2 separate regions of the Homo sapiens genome follow, and region 2 is linked to region 1. A link means that fine-mapping ties the variant in region 1 to the expression of a gene that starts in the linked region. Tissue or cell type: lung. Region 1 holds a variant in brackets; the other region holds the start of a gene. All regions are shown on one strand. Distances are between the middles of the regions.

Region 1 (2,755 bases):
ATACTTAGGAATGGAATTTCTGGGTTATAAGGTAACTGTTTAACCTTATAAGGAACTCCCAGACTGTTTCCTGAAGTGGCTGAGGATTTTGCCTTCCCACCAGCAATGTTATGAGTGTTCTAATTTCTCGACATCCTTGCTAACACTTATTTTCTGGTGTTTCTTTTTTTTTTTCATCATAGCCATCCCAGTGGGTGTGAAGTAGTATCTTACTGTGGTTTTGATTTATTTCCCTAATGACTAATGATGTTGAGCATCATTTTATGTTCTTATTGGCCATCTGTATATCTGCTTTGGAGAAATGTCTGTTCAGATTCTTTGCCCATTTTTAAATGCAGTTGTCTTTTTATTCTTTTATGAGTTGTTTAAATATATTTTGGATACTAGATCCTAATCAGAGATAAGATTTACAAATATTTTATTTACAAATGTTTTCTCCCATTCTGTGAGTTGTCTTTTTTTTTTTTTTTTTTTTTGAGACAGGGTCCCCAGGCTGCAGTGCAGAGGTGGTGTGATCACGACTCACTGCAGCCTCAACCTCCCGGGCTCAAGTGATCCTCCCACCTCAGCCTCCTGAATAGCTGGGACTACAGGCACACCACCATGCCAGGCTAATTTTTAAATTTAAAAACAATGTTTTGCAGAGATGAGGTCTCACTAAGTTACCCACATTGGTTTCAAACTCCTGGCTTCACGTGATCCTCTCACCTCAGGATCCCAAAGTGCTGGGATTATAGGGATGAGCCACCATGCCCAGGCTTCTTGCTTTCTTGATAGTCCTTTTCTGCACAGAAGTTTTTTATTTTGATAAAGTTTAATTGACCTGTTTCTTCTTTTGTTGCTTATGCCTTTGGTGTCATGTTTAAGGAACTGTTGCCTACTCCAACGTCATGAAGATTTACACCTATGTTTCCTGCTAAGAGTTATAGTTTTGTAAAATGGCATTTTTATTAAATCATGTTTTGATTTATTTAAGATGACTATCATGCCAAAGCTCCCTGGTTACAAAGGTCACAAAAATATAAAGAAAATACAAAAAATATATTTTAGTCTTATCTTCTATCACATGATGGTATAGGATGTAGTCATTGGAGTCAAATCATGGATTTGACTTCCAGGACTTCTAGGCACCATGTCTAAGTAGCTTCCTTGGAGAATCTGTGTATCCTGACTGAGAATGAGTATTCCAAATTTTATGTGCATTCTATATATTTATCTATTACAAAGATATATATAAATATAGATATATTGTTATACCATTAAAAACTTTTTTTTTTTTTTTTTTTTTGAGACAGGGTCTGGCTCTGTCACCCAGGCTGGAGTGGAATGGC[G/A]CCATCTCAGCTCACTGTAACCTCTGCCTCCCAGGCTCAAGCCATCCTTCCAACTCAGCCTCCCAAGTAGCTGGGACTATAGGCATATGCCACCATGCCCGGCTAATTTTTATAATTTTTGTATTTTTTGTAGAGACAGGGTTTCACCATGTTGCCCAAGCTGGTCTTGAGCTCCTGAGCTCAAGCGATCCGCCCACCTCAGCCTCCCAAAGTGCTGGGATTACAGGTATGAGCCACTGTGCCCAGCTGGAAATGTCCATTTTTCCATCTCTTGGGTGACACTCTGGCTAGCTGTTCACTAGCACTGAGCTTTTTGAGAACTAAGCAATTAACTTCTCCAGTATATTTAATTGAAATTTTTTCTTACTATTCCCCTGCTTACTGGGAAGGCACCACAATAGTATATTGTAAAGAGTAAGAATTAGGAAACCTGAGTTTTGGCTCTGACTCTGCCACTAACTGTGTGACCCTGGAGATTCGTCTCATTTCACTGGCCCTTGGTGTCCTCTTTGAGAGAGGAAGAAAGGAAAGAAGGGAGGGAAAAAAGGAGGGAGGGAAAGGAATGCCCTTCCAATTCTGGCAGTCTGATTGTTTGGGACTACATTTAGAAATGTCTTTTCATCTCTATTTGTAGCAAGCAGAATTGTTCCAGCCAGTTTTCAGGCTATTTGTGTGTGCTAACCTTTGTGGTAGCACTTCTCTCACATTTGGCTTTTGGAAGTAATTCCTAGCCCAAATAACAATCTTCTTTTCCTTGTTTGGCATCTCTACCCAAAAGCCAAACATTGATACATCTGAAGGGAAGGCAGGCTGTGGGCCAGGCTCACAGATAGGCATAAATGTTGACTCCCCAAGTATGCTGTGGGAGATCAAAGGGGAAGATGTGCTGACTAAATGTCCCATGAGAATCCCTGTGAGCCCATAACTTGGAGGAACTGTGTGGTCCCTGACCAGCCTAAGTTTTGGAAAGGAATCAGAAGGCTCCTCCCGATTCACAGGGTAACCAGCTGGCCAGCTAACATCAAGCAGAAGGCAAACAAAATAATGCTTTAAAATTTCCGCTCCTGCCACTTGCCTTGGGGGGGAAAGAAGTATTTAGACAGTTAATTCACTCATTCACTCATTCAGTGAATATATATTGACAGCCTATAATGTGCCACTATTCTAGGCACCAGGAATACAGCAGGGAACAAAATAAAGCTCCCATAATCATGAAGCTGACACGCTCATGAGGAAGACAGACAACAGACAAGCGAGTAGCTCTACATACATGTGTGTATACATGTGTGCATACATGTATGCATATGTGCATGCATATACTTATGTATGTATGTGTCAGATGGTAAGCACTTTAGGAAAAGGCAAAACAGAGAAAGTGGCATAGGAAATGCGGGGGAAAAAGTTGAGTGTTCATTGCTATTGTA
Region 2 (2,614 bases), 220 kb after region 1:
ACCCCCCGCCCACTCACAGCAGATCCTTCTGACCAGGTTTAAGGCGGGGCTCGGTGGGGCTCTCCCCTGCCCCAAGAGAGAGGGAACTGGGGAAGTGGGAGCAGTTCCGATGGTGCTCTCCTTCTGCCGCTCCACCACCAGCCAGGAGGACCCCCCCCCCCGACCTCCTCCCCTCATCTGGTGGAGCCCCCACAACGGGAGTGGCATCTGGGTTGGGGGCGAGTACAGACCGTATCGGGCAGGGGCCACCCTGGGAGGGGTCTCAGAGGGGCGGAGGGGTGGGGTGGGAAGGGGGATGGTGGAGACTGGAGCCACGCCCAGCCCAGAGACGGATGAAGGGACCGAGAAAGACTCTTGAGACCGAAAGAAGAGACAGCGAGGAGGAGGCGCCGCGCGGGTCGGGCCTCCAGGGACCCAGGGGCGGGAGGCGAGGCCCGGCGGGCGGCCTGGCCTGGGCCCCGCGGTAGAGCGGAGAGGCGGCTGGACTGGCAGGGGGCGGCGAGCGTGGGCCGGGGGCGCGGCTCCGGGAGGACGGGATCGAGGGGGCGGCGGGCGGGGGTAGGGGTGTGGGTGGGGGTGGGGCGATGGAGCACGCGGAGGGCAAGGGACGGACGGATCGGGTGGCGAGGGACAGAAGGATCGGGTCTCGGAGAGGCGCGCAGGGGGAGAACACAGAGTGGGTGGCGACAGACGGACGGACACAGGGCCCGGGAGAGAGTCGGGAGGGACGGACGGGCCCCTCGGAGGAGCGGGAGACACACGGGCGGGTGGAGGGGCCGGGAGCGGGCAGACAGAAGGACCTCAGCCCCCACTGTCTAGCGGAGGGACACACAGACGGACAGGGGGACGGAGTCACCGGCAGGTCTCGGCGCGGCGGGACTTTCGCTGACCGCGGCTCAGTTTCTCAGTTTCGGAAACGGGAACTGGGGCGGGAAGGGGGAAGGAAGGGCGCCGCGCCCTCGGGGTAGCCCCGATCCCGCGCCCGGACCCGGCCCTCACTTACCTCCCGTTGCAGGGGCAGGCGCCAAGGGTCGCGGCGGCAGCGGCGGGGGCGCCGCTCCCCGGCGCGCGCGGACGGGGTTCGGCGCGGCGCTGACTGGGATGGGCCAAGCGGCCAGTGAGGTGTGGCCCGGGCCTCCGCGCGGCGGGCGGGCGCCGGGGGTCGCTCGGGAGATGTGGGCTACAGCCGCCTCGGGCTCCGGCGCCGCGGCACACGGAAGTGCGAGGGGGCGGGGCCGAGCGACCTCACCCAGGTGCCGCCGGCCCCGCCCCCGCCAGGCCCCGCCCCCGCCAGGCCTCGCCCTGCCAGGCCTCGCCCCGCCAGCTGCAATCGGGGACAGCGTCCCTCCGCCTCTGCCTGCGCGGGACACCGAGTCTCCCGGTCCCTCTGCCCTGCCTGGCCCTCTTCGCATCCTCCCGCCATTAGCGCGCAGCCAGCCCTCAGAAGGGGCCCATTTTACAGAGGAGGACGCTGAGGCCCGGTGGGGAGGCTCCCTCCGCCCGCTGGGGCCTGGGAGGGGCCGGCGGGGGTTCCCCCGCTCCCCACACCCACGCCCGGGACTCCCCACTGGCCAGCTGGCCCGCCTCTCCTGGCCCCACTCCTGCTCTTCCTGTTGGCTGGAGCTCGGACGCGGCCGGGCGCGGTGCCCGCCGCCAAGCCCGCTGTCCCGGCTCTGCCCCAAAGACTGAGCTGGTTAGACTCCAGGGTCGGAGGTTCTCGCTGGTCGGGCGCTGCACTGCTCCTCAGGCGGTTCTGGGAACTGCCCCTACTCGGACTGGCAGTTGCCCCTACCCCGATTGGCAGTCTTCTGCTTTCCTGCCCCCACCTTTGAGACCTCTCTATTGCTCCTGGCAGGCGCCTGAGCCTCCTTTCCAGACATGGAACTTGGTTGTCAGCCATAACTCCTTCATTCATTCATTCACTCATTCATCTATTCACCGAGTGTCCCCTAGGCTCAAAGTCTAGGGACCAGTTGGGGTTCTAGGGAGTCCATTCCCCTGTCCCCAGAGCTCAGAAAGCCAAGACATTAGCCTTATACTCATCCAAAGAAATGTCACTTCCCAGGAGACAAAAAAGAGGGTTCCAGGTCCTGGGGAACCACCTAGAAGGGATAGAGAAAGTCTAGACAGCTCTTCCCAGCTGAGACACAAGGGATGGAAGTGGGGGACAATCCCTGAGGTGGCCTGAGCTGAGAAAGGGGCTTGTGACAGAGACAGGCCATTGGACTTTGGTCTTCTCACAGAGCAATGAGAAGGTGGTGAAAGCTATTACAACCAGGCAGGATGACAGGCTCAAGGGGGCTCCTGCGGGATAGATGGGGCAGAGGGACAGCAGGGCAGAGGAGAGGCTGGATGGGGGACAGAAGGGCTGCCACGTTGTTCAGGTGGGAGGACCCTGGTTGAGATTGCGGAAGATGGATGGGGAGAAAAGGCCAGACCAGGTGGGTTCAAGGACTATCCTTTGGGAAAGACTTTCTCTTCACACCCAGGCCTTGAGCATGCTGTTCTCTGGGCCTGAATGCCATTTCCCACCCCACCCCCAAACCTCTACCTGCCCTGGTTGTGTCCATTCAAATGTCCCTCCTCCCTGATGCCCAGTTGTAATGCACGGCAC

Evidence for each region. PIP is the estimated chance that this variant, and not a neighbour inherited with it, causes the effect.
Region 2: PRKCD starts here. The variant in region 1 is fine-mapped to the expression of PRKCD in lung (TOPMed, PIP above 0.99).

Annotation. Positions count from the first base shown.
Region 1 is chr3:53,379,528-53,382,282 of GRCh38, reverse strand. No RefSeq gene overlaps it. Among named protein-coding and RNA genes, the nearest start is that of DCP1A, 33 kb to the right of the region's middle. The variant G/A (reference allele first, on the strand shown) is at 1,332.
Region 2 is chr3:53,159,818-53,162,431 of GRCh38, reverse strand. PRKCD (protein kinase C delta) reads right to left here and starts at 1,223. Exons shown (of 19, transcript NM_006254.4): 1 at 1,004-1,223. RefSeq lists silencers at 272-501, 772-1,721.